Regions from separate parts of the Homo sapiens genome. Here region 1 is linked to region 2. Evidence: fine-mapped expression QTL. A gene starts in region 2. The other region holds a variant in brackets. All regions are shown on one strand. Distances are from middle to middle. Region 1 has its middle 21 kb from the start of FAM217A. Region 2 holds the start of ECI2 (enoyl-CoA delta isomerase 2).

Region 1 (5,378 bases), 35 kb after region 2:
ACTCCTGGCTTTTGTGCCTGCTGATCTGTTTACATAGCACAGCACTGAAGGAACTTTGTCAAAGCCAGCAGGCCTCACGTATGATCTGCCTGTTTTGTGGCCCTAAAACTGCTATTGCCATGTGAGAGAGGGGCCTTATCCTCTCCGTGCTAGCGGGGATACACAGCATAAACTGAGCAAATGTTTGCCAGGGCAGGTTCAAGGTTAGGACCTACAGTTGCCTCAATCTAACACGTGAAAATACTGTACAATGCATTCAAATAGTACTTCATACTTGTCAAAACTCAATTTCACAGTCGTTTTTCTATCAGTGTCACAACTCTTTCTGATACAACATGAGGTATTAGCAACACCATTTTACAGGTGGTCAAGGGCACACGAATCAGTAGTGTTCAATAGCTCTTAGACAAAAACAAAGCTATTCTTCGATTAAATTGACATAATAACTGCACATATTTATGGGATACAGTGGGATGTTTTGATGCATGTTTACAATGTGTCATGATCAAATAAAGGTAATGAGCATGTCATCACCTCAAACAATTTTCATTTCTTTGTGTTGGGAACATTCAAGATGCCCTCTTCTAGCTATTTGAAAATAAACAAAAAATTATTGTTGGCTATAACCACCCTACAGTGTTATAGAACACCAGAACTTATTCCTCCTGTCTAGCTGTACTTTTGTATCGGGTAACCAACCTCTGGCTATCCACCCCTTCCCGTTACCCTTCCCAACCTCTGGCAACCACTACTCAACTCTCTACTTCTGTGAGATCAGCGTTTTCAGCTTCCACATATGAACGAGAGCATGCAGTATTCTTCCCCACTTCCTCTCACTACCTCCACTACCCTTCCCAGCCTCTAGAAACCATTCTTCTACTCTCTACCTCCATGAATACAACTGTTTTAATTTTTAGCGCCCACAAATGAGTGAGAACCTTTTGAAGTTTGTCTTTCTGGGCCTTATTTCACTTAATATAATGTCCTCTAGGCTCATCCATGCAGCCTCATATGACAGGATTTCCTTCTTTTTTATGCTAAAAAGTATTCTCTTGTGTATATACACCACATTTTTAATTCATTCATCTGTTGATGGAAACCTAGGTTGATTGCATATCTTGGCTGTTGTGAATAGTGCTGCAATGCACATGGGAGGGCAGAGAGCTCTTTGACATACTGATTTACTTTCCTTTGGGTTCACACCTAGTAGTGGGATTGCTGGGTCATATGGTAGTTCTAGTTTTATGGACAAAGCTATTATTGATGATTCTTAATAATAGTCAGGCTTGCTTTGGCTAAAGAATGAATTCTCTCAAGGGTGTCAGTTAAGTCACAAAGAATTAAGAATGATACAGTTATCAAATGACAATATTTACCATGTTACCAGGTAATAGGAGAAGAATCATTAATGCCAGGAGGCATCATCAGAACTAGAACAGTTAATTCAGCAGATCCTTCAGGAATCTGGAGTCACAGCAACCAAGACAAGGTTCATGATTGATTGATTGCAAAATGGGCCTAATCCTCCCACCTGTCCTGTACCGAAGCCCCCTGCAACATGACTTTGCACCTCCTTCCACTGGGGCGAAGCCTGTTTCTCCACCTCTTGAATCCCTGCCCAACACTGTTTTCCTGCTTCCACTTTGATGCAACACCACTCCCAGGAAACCTTTTGCATTCTTATTTCTATCTCAGCGCTTGAGACTCCAACCTGTAACACTAGGAATACAAAAATAAATAAGATAGGCTGACAGTCCCTGCTTTTAAGGAAAGCAAATAAATGTTTGTAAAATAAAATGTTAAAAAAAAGTACCATTTCCTATGTTCTGATACTCTAGCTATATTTTCAGAAAGCAAACTAGGATATAAAGATCTATAACTTCATATGAAGACATCAGGACCTAAAATTGAGGTGTACAAACTTTCTATGGTTGTGAAACTTGAATGTTTAAAAATAGGTCTTGTGTTATTCTGTCTTCACATTGCTATAAAGAACTACATGAGACTGGGTAATTTACGAAGAAAAGAGGTTTAACTGAATCATAGATCCACGGGCTTAACAGGAAGCATGATTGGGAAGCCTCAGGAAACTTACAATCAGGGCAGAAAGCAAAGGGGAAGCCAGGCACATCTTATCGTGGTGGAGCAGGAGAGAGAGGGAGAGCGAGGGGAGAAGTGCAACACTTTAAAACCAACAGATCTCTTGAGAACTACTCACTATCATGAGAACAGCAAGGAGGAAATCTGTTCCCATGATCCAATCACCTCCCACCAGGCCCCTCCTCCAACATGTGGGGATTACGATTCAAAATGGGATTTGGGTGGGGACAGAGCCAAATCATATCAGGCTTCCAAAGCATGGTCAAATAATCTTCACTTGAGTAATCAGATATCATCACTTAATATAACCTTTACCTACTTCTGGACAAAAAATGTAGTGTCTTTGCTTTGTCCAGAAAACACCATGGTTCCATTGACCACCTTCTTTTATAATAATACCTTTGCCTTCTTTGGCTACCAATATTTAAATCAAATTGGCAAATTATGCCACTGAGGACACTGAAAAAAATGCAGACAAGGACTCTGTTTCACCAGGGCAATAATCCCAGGGGAAGCTTCCAGTTCAGGCAAATTCATGAGCTGGAACTCTCTCCCGGTTATGTTACCTTCAAATCAGAAATGATCCTGTCTTTGTAGCAACATCTACATTTATCCTGACAGCC[C/T]GGCAAAATTGCTTGAATACTTACTATGTACAAAGTGTAGGCATCATTGCCATACATGCAGCAATACGAAAGAAACAAATATAGACCAGGCACGGTGGCTCACGCCTGTAATCCCAGCACTTTGGGAGGCCAAGCAGTTGTATCACCTGAGGTCAGGAGTTTGAGATTAGCCTGGCCAACATGGCAAAACCCCGTTTCCACTAAAAATACCAAAAAAAATTAGCCAGGTGTTGTGGCACATGCCTGTAATCCCAGCTACTCGGGAGGCTGAGGCAGGAGAATCACTGGAACCCAGGAGTCGGAGGTTGCGGTGAGCTGAGATCGCGCCACGGCACTCCAGCCTGGGTGACAGTGCGAGACTCTGTCTCAAAAAAAAAGAAAAGAAAAGAAAAGAAAAGAAAAAAACAAATATAGAAACACCATCTATCTGGCATAAGCAGGGAAAGAAGTGCACCAAAAAAAGATAATTTGCCAAGGAACCAAAGCTTATGACTTTGAGCACCGGAATCCAACCAATTCCACATCCCCACTGTTACCACCTGGGCCACCATCCCTTACCTGCAGAGCTGTAAAATCTCCCAACAGCTCTCCTCCACCCATGCATTCTTTGGGAGGCTAGAGAGGATTTGGGTCAGATGATGTCACTCCTCTTGTTAAGACTGTCCAATGGTGCTCCAGTTCTCTCCATGTACAGTCTGGCAGACCAGGGATAAAGCCAAAGGTCCACCATGTCCTGCTATGGTATCCTAGCCCCTGGTCATGCCAATGGTGGGTGTGAAAAACCAAGCTGCTTCCCAACTTACGCAGCCAAAAAGCCCCAAAGCTCAGTGGTTGGGTTTCTCTCCAAGAATCCCACTCTGTTCTTGCTAGATTTCTGCTCTCTATTCTAGACTGCAATGGGCCATGGAGGACCCACACTCCTGCTCCCATTTCCATGAGTTTACTCCCAGTGAGGGCTCCTCTAGCAGCTTGGTGGTGGGTAAAAATGGGGCCCATGTGCTTTTATATAGAACAGTGCTTATCATTTTTTAGCTAAGGCATATAGAGATTTTGTGATCACCCTGTGTATCTCTAAATATATCCACATAAGGCAGAAATTAGAGTCTACCTGACAACTATGGTGGACATTGGAGGCTCTTTCGTGTTTCTCTTCAACAAGTGACATTTCTTCCACCCGTCAGTTACATTGTTGATGATTTTTCTTTTCCACGGGGGCATTCTGTTCGGCTTTGGGGTCAGATTAATCTCTTTTGGCAACTGATGTCTTGCTAAGATTCTTTCTAAGCCAGAGAGTTCAGGATTCTCACCTGGTAATAGAATAAGCATTAATACATTCAATGTTCCTCTCCATCTTTGCATAGCAAGAGTAACAAGGCACTGATTTGAGAAAACATATATATGCAGCTTAATAATTCCTATTGGGCCGGGTACGGTGGCTCACGCCTGTAATCCCAGCACTTTGGGAGGCTGAGGCGGGAGGATCACAAGGTCAGGATATCGAGACCATCCTGGCTAACATGGTGAAACCCCGTCTCTACTAAAAATACAAAAAATTAGCCAGGCATGGTGGCGGGCACCTGTAGTCCCAGCTACTCAGGAGGCTGAGGCAGGAGAATGGTGTGAACCCGAGAGGGAGAGCCTGCAGTGAGCCAAGATCGTGCCATCGCACTCCAACCTGGGTGACAGTGCGAGACTCCATCTCAAAATAATAATAATAATAATTCCTATTTAGCTTTGTCATTCCTTTATTCCAACAATATTACTGAGCACCATTCAGATCTTAGCCTGGTCCTAGACATCTAGCAGATACATTGTAAGTAAATAAAAGAATGAACAAGGCCGGGTGCGGTGGCTCACACCTCCCAAAATTTGGGAGGCCGAGGTGGGCGGATCATGAGGTCAGGAGATCAAGACCGTCCTGGCTAACACGGTGAAACCCCGTCTCTACTAAAAATACAATAAATTAGCCGGGCATGGTGGCGGGGGCCTGTAGTCCCAGCTACTCGGGAGGCTGAGGCAGGAGAATGGCGTGAACCCAGGAGGCGGAGCTTGCAGTGAGCCGAGATCGCGCCACTGCACTCCAGCCTGGGCGACAGTGAGACTCTGTCTCAAAAAAAAAAAAAAAAGAATGAGCAAACAAGCAGGCATGCTGGGACCACACAAATAGAGTTGGTTATGTGTGCATGATTCTCAAACTAATGGCAAGTTACCATACAATTATTATTATTGTGATTCTCATTTTCCCTTTAATTGCATACTTAATTGGAGATGCACATTTTGAAACTTCCCAGAAGAAATAGGGTGAATGTTAACATTATTGTCAGGCCGCACAACTTGGGGCCCCGTTTTATTGATGATTTTGTCTGAGCAAGGATTACAACATAGGACTGAACTTCCAGCATGCTTTGTCAGTTAGAATGTGGGAGTGTCACTTACTGTTCTTTTTGATTCCACAAAATTCATTTCTGGCCAGAAATGAACTGTTTTTTCTCGCTCTGTTATAAGCATGTCTATTTTCAGCTATGCCGGTGGGAAATGCCTTCCTTCTTTTGGGTGTTCCAATAACTGAGACTTGAGGTTTGGACTGTTGCGGCCTACTGTAGGAGCTCTGGATGGCCAGCGGTACAGCTACAATTGCATGGTAGAGCCACTTGG
Region 2 (5,378 bases):
AAGAAACATTCACACTACCACTGAGCACAACACTGTGAAGTCGATATGCTGACCCCAAAGATTCATTATAGCCGGAGACAACACTTCCTGTGCACCTGCTAAGAGAGTCTGAGATTCTCTCAACCCAAAGAACATCAACGGCCCTCCCAGGCAGCATCAGTCCCCTGCAATCAATAAGACAGGATCTAACCAGACTGGAGGACCCCCTCCCCAAGATTTTCATAAGCTCCAGGGGAAGCTGGTTATATAACAGGGTGAAGATTAGAGCTTTAGAGAGGTCTTGACTGAGTTTCTGCCTTTCCTACTCTTATCCAGAACCATTACACCCTGAAGATATATCTGGAGTCCAGGATTTCACTGAGAACTGGATAGCTGGGCATGCCAATTGTATCTTCAATGGCTCTCTGCTTGCTCTCAGCACGGAATCCAAACTCCTTAGCACAGATACAATGATCTTCAAGCTCAGGTGGAGAATCTACCAAAATCACAATGGTTCCCTTTTGCTGCAACTGGCCCTCCCACCCACAGGGCCATGGCAGCCATGTTTACAAGGCATGGTCTGGACACCTCTTAACAGTTTAGTAAACCAAATACGGACCCAAGATGACCCTCTTTAGGATCTAGGAATCTAAATGTCTGTCTCTTTAACCAGGAATGTCTGTCTCTTTAACCATCTCCTTTCTCTCAAATGCTGGATATAATGGGGCTTTAGTAAATGACAGCTGGTAGATATGCAAATGATTTCTCCAATAGGAAAAACATTCCTCCCGAGGTTATGGTTTTATTGCTCTATGGGATATTAACCAGTTTTGTTTCTAACTTTGCAATCTATTCCAGCATTCTTTTTTTAACATTGACTATATTAAACTAGTCTTTTAACTTCTTCTTTAGCACCCTGTTGGTTCCCTAATTAATGAGCTAAGTAAATCTTTGACACATGCTCTTTCTATATTTTTAAAATTATAGTTTGAAAAAGATAAGCTAATTTCCCACACCCCACTCTTTTCTGTGGTAGGTATAAGCCTGAGAGTAGTTTGCTTGCATTGCAAAAGGTTTCACTATCAAAATATGCTTACCAGTATGAGATTTAAAAAATATTTCCATGACAGCTGTTTCATCTTCTGGAAATGAATGAGTCTTGTATTATCTGCAATATCTGATTACTGCATTTCCATTACCTCTGAGGTTATCTAACAGCCTTGGAGAGAGTCAAGGTCTCTGAGAGAGGCAGCTCAGCCTACCAACTACCACTTTGTAATATATGGAGAGGCCAGGTGTGGTGGCTCACACCTGTAATCCCAACACTGGGAGGCCGAAGCGGGTGGATCACCTGAAATCAGGAGTTTGAGACCAGTCTGACCAACAAGGTGAAACCCCATCTCTACTAAATACAAAAAATTAGCCGGGCCTGGTGGCGCATGCTTGTAATCCCAGCTACTCGGGAGCCCGAGACAGGAGAATCACTTGAACCCAGGAGGTGGAGGTTGCAGTGAGCCGAGATTGTGCCAGTGCACTCCAGCCTACGCAACAAGACGGAAACTCCATCTCAAAAAAAAAAAAATCTCTTTGGGATAAGCCCAAATTGTTCTATTTGACTTTTGGTGTTGCCCCATCTACACTATTACCCAGATCTACCTGATGAAACTTAATGATAAAGTTACTTGAGACTTGGACTCTGCCCACCTGCAAGCCTCCTGTCTTTGGGGAATTCACCTGATTAATCTTTCTGGGTCTCAGTTTCCACATCAGCTCAACAGGGCAATATGCTCAACAGGGCAATTTCCACATCAGCTCAACAGGGCAATATCATTTTCCTTACAGGGTTGTCCAAAGACTTACAATTAGCCTGGCTCACTATAGGTAGTCCACAGGTGTCAGCTACATAAATCTAAAACTCCTAGGCATGCTTGGATGGGACAACTTGGGCACAGAATTTAGAGGGGTGGTTTTGTTTCGTTTTGTTCTGTTTTGTTTTTTGGTTCTCTGGGAACTGGACAAGGTGACACAGCCAAGGCCCTTCCAACTCTTAAGAATTCTTCCCCAAAGAAAATACTTTGCAAATGCCTCAGCAGAACTCAAAAATATCCACAAACTCTTCACTGACACTAAAAACTTGGGTACTCCAAAAATCACTTCTGACCCCCAGGCGTCCTACCAGGTCTGCAAACCTTCGATTTGGGGATGCATGACCTAGCAGCTTTTAAGCATACGCCCTCAATTGTTACCCCACCTCCCGGCTCAGGGCTGGCCCTCGGGATGCAGCGACCCCTCCTCGCCAGGCTCCGCGGGACTCCGGGCAGGGCGCTCAGTGCTCCGGCAGCCACAGGGTTCGCAGAGCTGAGGTCCGCCCGAGAGAGCAGCCGCGCCTCCAGCTCGCAGTTACTCGGAGCCAGGCCGGGGAGCATCTGTGCCCCGCCCCACGCGCCGCGCAAGTCCTCCCGGGATCACCCTCCCCGCGCCGCGAACCCCCCGCACTTCCTCCACTCCCGGGTGATACCCGGCCTCGCTCCGGCCCCGCCCCCGCATCTGAGCCCCGACTCCTAACCGCCTAGAGCTCCCGCCCCGCCCACGCACCGACCCCCCCGGCCCCACCCCCGAGCCCCCGCAGCCCCAGAGGAGGCCACGGGCTAGCGATGGCGAATGCGGCGTGGCTACGCTCTCAGCCTGGCCCCGCCCCAACCCTGGCCCCGCCCATGCCCCAGGCTCCTGCCTGGGCTCTGCTCTCGGCCCCGCCCCGCACCCAAGCCCCGGCCCCACCCCCGAGCCCCCGCAGCCCGGGAGCCTAGGCCCCGCCCCCGAGTCCCGGCTCCACCCCCGAGACCCGGCCCCACCCCCGAGCCCCCGCAGACCGAGCTAGGCCCCGCCCCCGAGACCCGGCCCCACCCCCGAGCCCCCGCAGCCCTAGAGCCGCCCAAGGGATGGCGATGGCGTACTTGGCTTGGAGACTGGCGCGGCGTTCGTGTCCGAGGTAAGCTTGGAGTCCCGGCCGTTCGGCCCATGGTCGCCCGCAGGATACCGCTGTCCAGGCGAAGGTCGCCGCCGTTGGAAGACCCTCCTTCCCTATTGTCTAGGTGGCAACAGGATTTTGCTTTGCTGGTTTTCCGGTGAGGTAGTGCTAAAAAGTGACGACCTCACGCGCGCCCTCCTGCACCGCTGGGCCCGGAGTGGTCAGGATGGGCGCGTCGGGAGGTCAGGGCTATGGTTCCCTGTCAGCAGTCCCCAAGGTCTCCGCCTGCCTCCGCGCACGCTCCCATCCTCCTGGGGCCGGACTCCGGGCGGGTGAGCCGCCCCAGCTGAGCACCCGGGCCTGCACTTCCCAGCCGGGCTGCTTCTGGGGTGCAAAGCGTCGCTTGCTAAAAGCGAGGTAAACGCAAGCCGTTATCACTCGTGTGGACTTAACACTCTGCTTCTTGGAGAACACGTATGCTATAAAGTGAAATGGCCGGGTACAGAGTAACGGCTAAGAAGCACGCTGCACCTCCCTGGGGTCCCGGGAACCCGCACGAATCTGTGCATAGGGAACAAAACCGAAACACGGTGGTGGCCTTGAAGTGGTAGAATTATGAGTGATTTTCCCGACTTTATGTATTTTCTTAAATGGTCGTGTTTTTGCTATTTGTTTTTAAAACTCACGCTTTATTTAAAAATAAATTTGTTCCACATTTTGTGGAAACTTGTACATTTCGGCTTTCTGTGGATATTTTAAATTTTTCTTTCGTTTTCTACGTGGAATTTGCCATATAAGATGCAGTTTTTCCCTTTACAGAAAATCATTTTAATGTAAAACTTACTCTAGGCTGATCTTACTGAATCAGTTACTAATAGTCCAAAGTTTGAACCTAGAGTTCATTGCACCATTTTCGAGTTACATAATTGTGTTTGTGTGTTAGGTTTGGGCTTTGTAACCTGTATTATTTTAATCATCTTTTTTGCCATTAACTCTATTATTCAGTGTCATCGTCGTGAACTCCATTTTTAGCTTGTGGCCTGAGTCCTGTGCATTCAAGTTTGCCACCCCACCCCCGCTCACTATGTGTGCTTAAAAACGTGCTGATCACCCCCGCGGTGGTTGCTGTTTCTGCTCTGTTCCTGGCTGGCTGGTTAAACATACCCATAGAAAGGGGCACGCCTGCTGAGCCCCCTTCACTGACTCCCTTCCACTGCAGGTAGATTCCCTCCCATCTGCTGAGAAGGCTGTGGCTCTATCTGGAATGCCAGCAACTGCTCGTGTGTTCTTTTGAATATTTCTTGTATGTTCACATCCATTCTCCCCTCCTTCCACCTGTGTGTATGTTGGAACACCAGCTTCGCCAGCAAAGAGGCAAGAATTGACCTGATATAGCTTATGGCTTATCAGTGAGTGCAGAGGCTGTTTCAGGACTTTGGGACACTTCACTAAATTCTGTGCACTTTAGCCTTTTGGTTTCCTGCTGTCCACTGTCTTGCATGCACTTCACTTCTTGCCTTTGGCAAAATTTACATGGTCATTCCTGTTCTGGCTGCTTTTATCTTTAGTTGCTTACAGATACCTCCCTGGATGGTTACTTTTCCTTTTATTTAAAGTTACTACTGTTAGCTTCTGTATTGACTTATTATCTTGGAATCCTTACAGCCAATTATTTGCAGCCAGTTTGCTGAGGCAAGTATAAAGAAAATATCTATAGACAAACATGGCATTTTGTTATGTATAGGCTGGGAACAATTAGAAATCAGGCTGCAGAAATGTGAGGGTTGGGAACAAATAGAAATCAGTCTGCCTAATTGTAGTTCTCTGCAGGTCACTAGTTTCCCGGTAGTTCAGCTGCACATGAATAGAACAGCAATGAGAGCCAGTCAGAAGGACTTTGAAAATTCAATGAATCAAGTGAAACTCTTGAAAAAGGATCCAGGAAACGAAGTGAAGCTAAAACTCTACGCGCTATATAAGCAGGTAAATGCCTACGGTCGAACGTTATTTAAAGAATTTTGGGCAAATGACTTCTTAAATAAATACACTGTGTGTTTACTAAAATGTGGCCTTAACATTTTGGTTTGTCTTGCTCCCTCTTCTCTGAAGAGTGTGTGTGTGTATATATATATATGCCAGTTTTTTATATTAGACCTTGAAATACTATTAAGGCACAAAGTGCCTCAGTGTCACACGAGTAAAAGAGACTTACGAGATATAATATTCACATTTGTAGACCTTACTTAGCTCTTGATTAGAATAAATCAACTGAAAAAGGTATTTTTAAGACAATTGGGGAAGTTTTGAGTAAGGACAGAGTGTTAGAAGATACCTAGAAATCATCGTTAATGGTGTCAAGGTTATATAAGAAAATGTTGATATTTTTAAGAAAAGTGTACTAAGGATATAGGGGTGAAATAGCATGGATAGT

Evidence for each region. PIP is the estimated chance that this variant, and not a neighbour inherited with it, causes the effect.
Region 1: its variant is the best candidate, but not a certain one, in a credible set for the expression of ECI2 in ovary (GTEx, PIP 0.80).

The regions. Positions count from the first base shown.
Region 1 is chr6:4,097,652-4,103,029 of GRCh38, reverse strand. It overlaps the pseudogene TEX56P. Among named protein-coding and RNA genes, the nearest start is that of FAM217A, 21 kb to the right of the region's middle. The variant C/T (reference allele first, on the strand shown) is at 2,724.
Region 2 is chr6:4,133,101-4,138,478 of GRCh38, reverse strand. ECI2 (enoyl-CoA delta isomerase 2) reads left to right here and starts at 2,904. Exons shown (of 10, transcript NM_206836.3): 1 at 2,904-2,968; 2 at 4,768-4,930. The coding sequence starts at 2,919. ECI2-DT (ECI2 divergent transcript) reads right to left here and starts at 2,407. Exons shown (of 4, transcript NR_103764.1): 1 at 2,231-2,407; 2 at 1,077-1,118. RefSeq lists silencers at 2,349-2,558, 2,719-2,858.